Linked DNA regions of Homo sapiens: region 1 is linked to region 2. Evidence: fine-mapped expression QTL. Tissue or cell type: whole blood. Region 2 holds a variant in brackets; the other region holds the start of a gene. All regions are shown on one strand. Distances are from middle to middle.

The links. PIP is the estimated chance that this variant, and not a neighbour inherited with it, causes the effect.
Region 1: CNOT7 starts here. The variant in region 2 is fine-mapped to the expression of CNOT7 in whole blood (INTERVAL, PIP 0.98).

Annotation. Positions count from the first base shown.
Region 1 is chr8:17,243,545-17,249,583 of GRCh38, forward strand. It overlaps CNOT7 (CCR4-NOT transcription complex subunit 7), which reads right to left and starts at 3,313. Exons shown (of 7, transcript NM_013354.7): 1 at 3,131-3,313; 2 at 1,492-1,703. The coding sequence starts at 1,608. VPS37A (VPS37A subunit of ESCRT-I) reads left to right here and starts at 3,414. Exons shown (of 12, transcript NM_152415.3): 1 at 3,414-3,825. The coding sequence starts at 3,701. RefSeq lists an enhancer at 3,062-3,910.
Region 2 is chr8:17,278,840-17,283,839 of GRCh38, forward strand. It overlaps VPS37A (VPS37A subunit of ESCRT-I), which reads left to right. Exons shown (of 12, transcript NM_152415.3): 7 at 1,189-1,316; 8 at 1,400-1,458; 9 at 1,536-1,604. Among named protein-coding and RNA genes, the nearest start is that of VPS37A, 34 kb to the left of the region's middle. The variant A/G (reference allele first, on the strand shown) is at 2,321.

The DNA.
Region 1 (6,039 bases), 35 kb before region 2:
ACTGGTTCAAAAGAGGGGAAAACGCCCTGTACTTTCCAATTGCTTCTCTGACACAAGGTTTTTCTCAACACCAAAACCCTAAGAAAAACATCATTAGCTTCCTAATTTCTCTGGCTTAAACAATATTCTCTCTATAGTCCACAGAAAGCATGCTGTCAAGAATTGCATGCCACCTACTCACTCTTGTAGGATGTTATCACTTCTCTATGTTGCCACTCTTTATCATCTGAGAAATCAATGATCACTATGAATTTCCATTGGTTAAGAAAACAATTTTAGTTCTAATCATGGGTAAGTACACCTTTATCAAATAGTATGTCATCTACAAAGAAACAGTCATATTTTAACCAATCAACTTGCTCCTCCCCAAAGTAATGCATTTGTTTATTTTTATTAAAAATACTGAGACAAAGATACATCGGTTTAGTATTAGAATTCAAACTAGGGCTAGCTAAGAATAAAAACTACCTATCAAGTCACTATGAAATAGTAAAGAAATCAATATTTCTCTAAATTCAGTGCAATTCAACAGCCACTTTATTGAATACTATATGTGTTATGCTAGGTGTTGGGAGAGAAAGGATTAAAACACTTGGTTTATGGAGCTAATAATAATCCAGTGGATGTAGAAAACAGTAGGGTAGCTAACAGATATAGACAGTATAATGGTAAAGAAGAAAAATCATTAACTGGATAGACAATCTAGGCAGACCAAACAGCACGTGCAAAAGCAGAGTTGCTTAGTAACACAGTATATTCACAGAACTCCAGTGTTAATTATGAAAACAAATTGCAGACCAACAACGTTTCACTGGCACATCTGATTTTTTTGTTTGAGAAAGAGCACCCTAGCTTCTGGGAGCTCATGTGGTACTACCAGCTAGGCTTTGGTGTTGCTAGGAGCAGACCTGGCACTCATAGCCACGCCCTAATGTTCTCCTGTTGAACACAATTTCACAAAAGTTCAACCTCAAATAAGGCCACTCTGTAATCATGTCTGAACAAGGACAAAAAAATAAAAATGTCAAACCACAAAATGACCAAGTATCTCCATCCTGGCTAAATGAATGACTGTTCCTTCTCTGCAGCTTTAACCTCATTCTAGTCTCTCATTTAAGACTTAGTAAGATACCCAATCACAGAATTACCCCAGCTTCCCGAACACATCCAATCCACAGTAAAGCTCTGCTTCCCTTACCTTCCCCTAAGACCACCTGACACGAGCCCAAATCCTTCCTAACTCTTATTCAAACGGCCCATGGTTCCCATGAATTCCAGTGCGTTTTCCCTCACTGCAATGAGGGATAAACCCAACCTGTCAAATCACAGGTGTATTCCTGATGGATTTTGGCTGGAGGGCAGTGACAAATTTTACTTTTCATGGTGAAATTAATCCCTAAAAATATCAACCAAAAGGGTTGAATTCAAGACTTTAAAATTTCCTTTTCCTCCTTTATATGAAGCGTTTTAAAGATCTGCTTGTGGGCATACCATAGCAACGTAATTATATTTTCGGATAACTTGACGAATTTTCTTCATCTCTTCATCCAAGTTGCAAGCCCAAACTTCACAAATTCTTTGGCTATGATCTACAGTTGCCGCTGGCATAGTGAGGGCACAAGGGAGTCTAGATGCCAAGCATCAAAATGTTATACTTGATTGAAGATTTGTTTCATAAAATATTTTATCCTTTATTTATGTACCTGTCAAAATAAAAAAACAATATGAAGACCAGATATATCAAATCTGAATCACAGAATAATTGATCCAGCAGGAACCTAAGAAGTTATTTATTCAAAGTTCTTGACTCATAAAAAAAAAAAATCAAAGTTTAGAAAGTAACTTAAGGTCACACAGCTAGTCTATAGGAAAAAAAGGACTACAGTACAGATTTCCTGGTCCTAATTTCAGTTATTTTAAAATAGCTTTTTTACACATACATACTAATCATATTTTATAACTTTCCACTAATTATTTATCTGAGTTCAACTACTCTGCATAAAACTTTATAAAGCCATCCATTTCCAGACAAAAAATGAAAAATTACTTATTTACATGTGACAAGATCAGATGTTACCATGGCAAAGATGGTGTTTATTTTTATTCCTCATTAATAAAACAACCAAAATCCGACTTGATAACAAGATCTACTTTACCGGCGTTTATTCTAACTAGACTAGAGGGGTCAAAAATGTTTGTAAATGCTCTGAGAAAAAAGTAACGGCCATGAAAATTATCTGAATGTTCGCAGTTGCAGAACGGAAAAAGAACACAATAGAACGTCTAAAACTTAGAGCATATTGCATGGTTACCAAAGATAGATGTCACATTTCTGGTCTATAAACAGAGTTCCTGTTGATTCTTGGGCAGGGAAATTTCAAATCCTTCTGCATTTTTCATACAAATTGGAAAAAAAAAAAACAAGAGTAAAAAGAGGGTCTTATGACTGTCTTCTAAACTCTGAAGAGTCACAAATGTAACTTCCAATTCTCCAAGTAGAGAAACTAAAGGAGATCCAGGACACCCCTCCTTTATAACTCTCCCACCCCGATAGGCACACACACACACATAAGCACAAAAACACAAAGACTTGGAAAGACCCTGTAGTCTAACATTGTTTTCCTCCACCTCTCTCTCTACTGCAGTCCCAGAAGCCCCGAAGAGACACCAAAGGCCTTCTCATTACTGGAGAAAGCATCTCCGTACTGCAGTTTCCCAGAGAAACGAGAGGACGGCACCGAGGTATTCAAGCCATAGATAACTCTCTTCCCTGGCAAAGCGCCAGTGCGAAGGTGCTGATAACACTGACTGGAGCTACACTGACTCCCAAGCACTGCCGCGTGAAACAATACGAAGAGGTGAGGATCTAGGCCACCGCCCTCCACTCCCAATTTCCGTCCCACTGCGAAGCCCCAGGTACAAAGCCTTTGCGTCATCACTACGCGCCAACCCCTTGACAAACCCCCAGCCCCAGTTACCCAGCCCCCAACCCGCCGCCAGGCTCCTTCCTCCGCCAGCCGCACTCCAGCTGGCGCCATCGCGCACCCTCTCAGGTTCATCGTCCCCGCCCCCTTTCTACTTCCCTAACCCGCCCCTCCCCCCGTAAGGCTGCAGCGGATGCAAGATCTACTTGTGTCGCTGAGCTCGCGCTCCTCCTCCTCCTCCTCGCCATAGAGACAGCACTCGGCGGCGGTGGCGGTGGCGGTGGCGGTAGCGGCGGCGGCAGCGGGTGCCCCATAGACACCTCTCGCCCAGCGAAGGGAAAGGCGAGCAGGAGCTGCGCCGCACCGTGCTGCGCCGTCGCTTTTCGCACGTCCTGACGGGGGCGCTAGATGATGACGCGACACGCAGAGGGGGCGGAGAGCGCCCCCGGGGGCGGGGCACGCAAGTGACGGCGGCGCGGGTGGTGGAGCGCTGGGCGGCCAGGCTCCCTGGCTGGCCGGTTTGGGCGTCTGGGCCGTGAAGGTGGGACCTCCTGTTCCGGGCCGCAAGTTTCCCTCTCCAGCCGCCCGCCGTTCGTAGCATGTCCCCCAGAACTCGGGGAGCGCAGGCAGGACAGGCTTAGAGAAGACGCGGTCCCCAGCGCTTGGGCCACGGACGTCCCACCCCGCTCCTCTGTCGCTGGAGAACCGCCGGGCCGAGCCACTGGGAGAAGCAGGCCAGAGCCTTCCAGGGCCTCCGGCCCGTGGACCCGAGGAGGATGAGCTGGCTTTTTCCCCTGACCAAGAGCGCCTCCTCCTCCGCGGCTGGGTCCCCCGGTGGCCTCACCAGCCTCCAGCAGCAGAAGCAGCGCCTGATCGAGTCCCTCCGGAACTCACACTCCAGGTGACTGGTCGCTGCCTCTCCACCGGAGGAAAAAGTAGGGTGGGAGGGCGGGCTTGTCCTAACCACCCTCACAGCGCCTCAGTCTGCTCCCCACCAGCTCCTCATGTGGTTTACCTCCCTTGGTTGTGGGTCACACGCTTGCTCTGCCACTCCTGCCCCCTTTTACTGTTTTCCTCCGGACCCTCCCTGCCTCCTGCCGCACCACTGCTCAGCGCTTCTAACTCGGATTTCCTCATCCCTCCTGACACATAGCTGCTGACTGTAATCTCTCAATCTCTCTCATAGTCTATTTCCAGTATCCCTTGCTGCCCAGGCTTCGCCACTGATCTTTCCCTTTGCCCACCTGATTGCCGCGTCAGCAGAATTGTTAAAATACAATTGTGAAGAGTAATCTCCAGGTTTCACAAAGAATGGAAAATAGAACTGTTGCAACATCAAAGGAAAGGGAAGCCAGAGTTTTCATCAGTGAATGCTTCTCGTCTGAGAGTCACTTATCACGTAGTCAGTCTTCTTGAGTCTCTAAGATTTACCCTGTTGGAGCAGTCTCTCCCCATCTCACAGCGACCAGTGCATGTACATTTCTCACTTCTTTCATAGTCTTGTCCCCACGCTCAAGAATTACTTTATGTTCATCTTGATTGTTCTGTTGTCTTCCTGTGAGTTTTTCATTTTATCATGGTCAGTTTAGAAATATTTTTACAATTCATATTATTTCAACTTTTACTGTAAATTGGTTTGCTGCAGCCTTTTACATTGCAAATGTCTATGGTCTCTAATGGTTTTCAAAAATTAGAACTGCTTCTTTATATTTTATGCATTTTGCAAGTATATTTACTTAACAGTTTCACACTATTTTAAATAAAGATGACAACATTGTTAAGTCCCTAACCCCTTTTTTTTTTTTTTTTTTTGCCGGGGGTACGGCTCTCCTGTTGCCCAGGCTGGAGCGCAGTGGCGCGATCTCGGTTCACTGCAACCTCCGTCTCCCGGATTCAAGCAATCATCCTCCCTCAGCTCCCCACACCCCTCCGAGTAGCTGGGATTACAGGTGCGCGCCACCATGCGCGGCTAATATTTTGTATTTTTAGTAGAGACGGGGTTTCACCACATTGGTCAGGCTGGTCTCGAACTCCTGACCTTAGATTATCCACCCGCTTCGGCCTCCCAAAGTGCTGGGATTACAGGAATAAGCCACCTCGCCGGGCTCCTAGCCCTTTTAAAAATATTATTTTCATACAGTTAAAAAATATGTATCCTCAGATAATATCGAATAATTCTTATTTAAAATGGAATAATTTTTAATTAAATAGTCTAGTTAATAGAAAAATTTACTGCAAAATCAGTTTGGCTAAAATAAGGCCTGATGCTGACTGAACTTTAGGTGTTTCTTGGTTCGTTGTCTCAATTGTTCTGTTTGTTCAGAACTTTCAAAAGGTGAAATTTTATGCTGTTTAACAGAAAAGAATGGCAGGCTGTTATTGGTGGCTTTCATTCTGGAAAATTAAGTTCGCAAAGTTCTTACAAGTCACTCTTACTCCAAATCATGTTCTGTACTGACCTTTAAGAGCTACTCTCACAAGGTATGCTTATAAAATAAGGGGACTCGTTTTTAACATGTTTGTTCCCTTAGAAGTTGTTACCTTGGTAGACTATATACCAAACCAGTCCTGCTATTGCAGAAACACTTTTTTAGAACCACACTTTTGGAATTAATTGCTTTTAAACCTTAGTATGTAGTATTATGTTAAATATTTTCAATGCTGACTAATTTTTTTCTTCGAGGTTGGAGTTTAATTTTTTAAATACTACAAAGTCTCTTGCTGCTAAGGCTGGTAAGTAAGGGAAGTAATTGATGTGAAATTTATAATTTTGGCCTCCCAAATAAAGTGAGATTCTATAGCAGCAATTGTTAATGTAAAGAGTTCTGGAATTGGCTTAAGAGGATCAGTAAATACGCGGAGTTGGATACAGAAAGGATTCATTTTATGTATTATTTTTTGAACCAGAAATTATGAACGTATGATTGGACATGATTACATTAGATAATGTAATTTATTTTGTAGTGTTATGAACAAATAACTAAGTATTTTATTGTTTTAAGTTCTTTTATAAAAACACTTGAAGTTTTATTGAGATGTTTCGCATTTACAAATTATACTCGAATAATTCCGGAGACACTTAAGTAGGTCATATGCTTCCAGTTTTCAAAGAATG
Region 2 (5,000 bases):
TTTTCCCTGAATTTTAAAGACTGCTTTTTCTTTTCTTCTTTATTTTTAAATTATCCAACGTTTTTATATGGCTCCATAGTCAAAACTAAGATACGTTCAGAAAAGTTTTGCTTCCATCCATATCTGCTCCACCTAGTTCTTTCACCCTACAGATACCCATTTTTGTTTTTGGTTTAGCCCTCCATTATTTCTTTTCTTTAAATATTTTATGAATATCTGTACACACATATACATAAACACACATAAACATATCTATAACTCTTACTGTGACAGCCACACATCTGTAAGCTAAATAGTCACAGAGGTTAAAACGGAGTTGTTGTGACTGCTTATGTGCCGTGTCTTACTGGTCCTACAGTAACTGACATTATACACTAGCAGAGACTGTTTATCTTGTAGAGTCTTGGGAGATTTTACTGGCTACATTTTGGCCAACACATCCTTGGAATCATGCACTGACCTGGTCTAAAGCTGACTAGAGGAAAAAGCCAAAATGTTACAGTAACTACTCTGGCCTCTTTTCAGCTCTGTTTCCCTCTTATCAATACATACAATGAAATGACTAGGAAGAAATTCTTCTCATGCTACCTTGTCTGTGAACTTGTACTTGTCTGAATTTACTATAGTACTAGTGTGTTCAACATTATGCTTGGAAGAAATAAATAGCTTAAATTTTACATATCAGTAAGTCTGGTTCCTATCAGGGAAATTTAAGAAATAAGTGATATTCTCAAGCAATTAAGTTAAACAGAATTAAGAACAAGAAAAAAATACTTAACTATATTACTGCTGTCCTATTTTAAGAAACCTAAGCTGAATAAGCTCCTTAGTTTCATACATTGTTCTTTACCTGAGTTAAGTTGACTTTATTTTTAATTTCAGGTCACTGTATAACTGTGAACACTTCCCCACGGTTGTGATTTTTAAAGAAAGTAGATATATCGATATATCCATTGGACCAAAATTTACTTTTACAGATTCTGTCAAGAATATATTACAGACTGCTCTATGTTCCATTGTGGTTGATGTTTTATTTGATTTTAAGGTTAAAACTGGCAGCCTTAGGTGTATATGTAAAAATTATTTAGAACCCTATCAGTTAACTAAAGCTGAAAAATTGTAAATAGTTGTCATGGAGAAAAACTCGATGTCTGATATTTATTGACATTTTTTCTTTTGTGTTTCTAGTGTGTCACAACTCACAGATATGAATGAACAAGAGGAGGTATTACTAGAACAGTTTCTGACTTTGCCTCAACTAAAACAAATTATTACCGACAAAGATGACTTAGTAAAAAGTATTGAGGAACTAGCAAGTATGTTTTCCCTCTCCTGAGCGCACATTTCCTGAAAAAAATCTCATCTTTACCTAGAAGTAAACTAGAGATTTATCTTACAGGAAAAAATCTCCTTTTGGAGCCCAGCTTGGAAGCCAAAAGACAAACTGTTTTAGATAAGGTGAGTTAGTGATAATTTTGAAGAAATTTACATAATTTAAAAATAGAATAAAACAACCTTTTCATTTTCTCTTTTAGTATGAATTACTTACACAGATGAAGTCCACTTTCGAAAAGAAGATGCAAAGGCAGCATGAACTTAGTGAGGTAAGACTGTTTATTTTTTTCCCTTTGCCATAGATTTTTTTTTTAATCTTATGTGCATGAGTCCTGATCTCACTTTCATTATCATCAGAAACCATTTATGAGGTATCTGACCTTATAAGACATGATACCTTTAAACGTGGATGAACAGCTCTCAGTGATGAGGCATCATACATTATTTGTGCTCATATAAGAGCGTATTTGTTTCTAAAACAGAAAATTATGACAGGCCCTGACACATAACTTTTCTGGGTAAGTTATGAAACCATTGTAACACTTGTAGTGAAACCTAGCAATAACAACAAAAACTTTCGACTCACTTGTAAGCTTATCTACAAATACCTTAAATGAAAAGTTCGCAAATTAAAAAGAATAATATATGAAAAATATATAGTATTATCTGCTACAAATAAGTTTTATGCTAGAAATCCAGTTATGTGAAAATCAAAAGAATTTTATAAAATTCAACCTATATTTCTGAAAAAAAAGGAATCTTTGAAAAGGAACCAGAGGACATAATCTTTGTATCATACCAATAACAACCTCATAGTTAATATTCTGTTTCCTGTAAAATTAGGAACTTTGGGTAAAGTCAATGAAATAAAACATAAAATAGACATAAACCAACAACAGCAAAAAAGATGGTAAAGGAGAATATAAATTTATAATGAATTTCAGATAATACGGTCATTTGTCAGAATAAAGAAATAATAGCTAAC[A/G]TTGAGCAATTAATATGTCTTGCACCGCATGAAGCTATTTACGTATATTGGGCCATTATTACACCAAATCCTATGAAATAGGTATTGTTACTTTTTCCCATTTTACATTTTACAGATAGGGAAACTGAGGCACAGGGAGATTAAATAAATTTCTTGAGGTCATACAAGTAGAAACATTAGTTAGGAGTGTAACCTAAGCAGTCCTCCTTCACAGAAAATCTGTGAGACTCAACTGAAGTACTGTTAGATATATACTGGACCTTAGTAAATGTTGAAGAAGCTTTCATAGTACTCAACATCATTCTTTATACAAACTCTTAGTAAACTAAAAATAGAAATTTCTTATTTGAAAAAGAATACTAGAAACCAGCAGTAAACCTCACAATTACTACACATTTCTAGGATCCCATTAATGTTAGGAATAAGAGAGTAATGCCTCATGATCACTGCTGTTTAACGTTGTTTGGGAGGTTTTGAGTACTGCAAGACCAAAAAAAAGTGGTATAACATAAAAAGAAGAAATGAAACAGTTGTTTACCAAAAATAAACAATCAAAAATTCTAGAGAACTGAGAAATTTTTTCCTGTTTGCTCCAGCAATTACTACTGCAAAATGAAGTACAGAAAACAACTCATTTACCATAGGAACAAAATTGTAAAGTACTTAGAAGTAAACCCAATGAAGTAAGTTAGGAAACTTTATTGAATGCCATAAAAGAAGAGCTGAGTTTTGTATTTTCTAAGACTATTTAGAGCAGCATAGAATATTCATTGAATGAAAGATCCATTATTAAAAAGATTTCATTCTCCCCAAAATAACTTAGAAATTGAATACAGTTCTTATCAAAATGCCAAGAATATTTTTTTTATCTTAACAGTTTATTCTAAAGTTCATCTGAAACTTTATTTTTCAGATGGGTAGTCAGGAAGAGCTTGAACAAAAAGAAAAAATGAAAAAAACTCCCTTTCCCAGTATCAGAATACACTGTAAATCCTCATTATTTAAAACAGTATAGTAGTTTTATAGGAAGAGAAAATTATTTCTATGGAACAGACTATGTAGTTCAAAAATAGACTTGTGTATGTGAATAATCAGTTGGAAAAAATTGAGGATTCAATAAATTATAAAATTGGTTATTTAGTATCCATTTAGAAAAAGGTTAGATCATTGTATCATACAATACACAGAAAGTTTATTACAGATAAACTGCTTCAGCGGAAACCATAAAACGTCAACTAGCTTCTAGGATTTTTTCTTTAAGATTATGGTGGGAAAAGCCTTTCTTAGCATAATAAAACAGATATGAGCATAAAGGAAAAACTCGACATATTTACCTCTACAGATTGAAAACTCAGATATATTAAAAAATCATGAAATCAAAATTGAAGTTAAAAAAAGGGTACAGATATTTTTAGCCTATACAACAAATACTAATGCCAGTGGTCTATTGGAAAAGGAAACAACAGGAAACTGACAAAAGGAGAAATATAAATGTCCAATAAAGATTCTGCTTTAACAGTTATTCTGATCCTTAAACATTCATATAAGAATTGCTGGAAGTGACTCTTCAAACACTTAAAAAAAAGACACACACACACACACACACAAAACAATGATTCCTAGGCTTCTTTCTAGATGTTCTCAGTCAAAATTTTCTGGGGATGATGAATCTTCTGCGCTCTTACATATGGAAACCACTTCATTAGACCATTGGTTCCGTGATGGAGGAATCTGTTCTGTTTCATTTCTACTGTACACCTAATATCTGGTTCAGTGGTTGGCACATAATAGGTACTCAATAAATATTTAATGAATAAATAACTGGAAACTTTGGAAAATATGTTCAACTTTACTGTAATTTTTTAAAAAGCCAAATAAAACATCCATGTGAGCCATATTTGTGAAGATAGATAACCAGTTTTGGCAAGGGCAATGAGAAAATGGTGCATTACAGTTCATTTTTATTTATGAGTCACAAAGAGATACTACCCCACATGCATTAGCATGGCCATTATTTTTTTTTTCTTACTCTGTCACCCAGGCTGGAGTGCAGTGCTGCAGTTACAGCTCACTGCAGCCTTGACCTCCCAGGCTCAAGCGATCCTCCCAATTCATCCTCCCAAGTAGCCAAGGCTACAGGTGCATGCCACCACACCTGGCTAATTTTTGTATTTTTTGTAGAGACGGGGTCTCGCTATGTTGCCCAGCCTGGTCATGAACTCCCAGGCTCAAGCCATCTGCTTGCCTCAGGCTCCCACAGTGCTGGGATTACAGGCATGAGCCACCACGTCAAGCAGGATAGCTATTATTAAAAAATCATTTTAGTGCCTAGATTTAGGTCTTTGATCCATTTGGAATCAATTTTGTATTTAAGTAAGGTAAGGGTCCAACTTTTTTCCTTTGCCTGTCGATAATCCAGTTTTTTCCAGCACCATTTGTTGAAAAGATTCCTTTCCCCATTAACTGGACTGGGCTCCCTGGTTGAAAATCATTTGGCCATATGTGTGAGGGTTTATTTCTGGGCTGTCTATTCTGTTCCATTGTTCTTTATGTTTTTATGCCAGTACCACAGTTTTGATTACTGTAACTTTGTTAGTAACTTGACATGAGGAAATATTAATCATCTTTAAGATTGTTTTGGCTATTTGGGGTCTCTTGAGATTCCGTATGAATTTTAGGA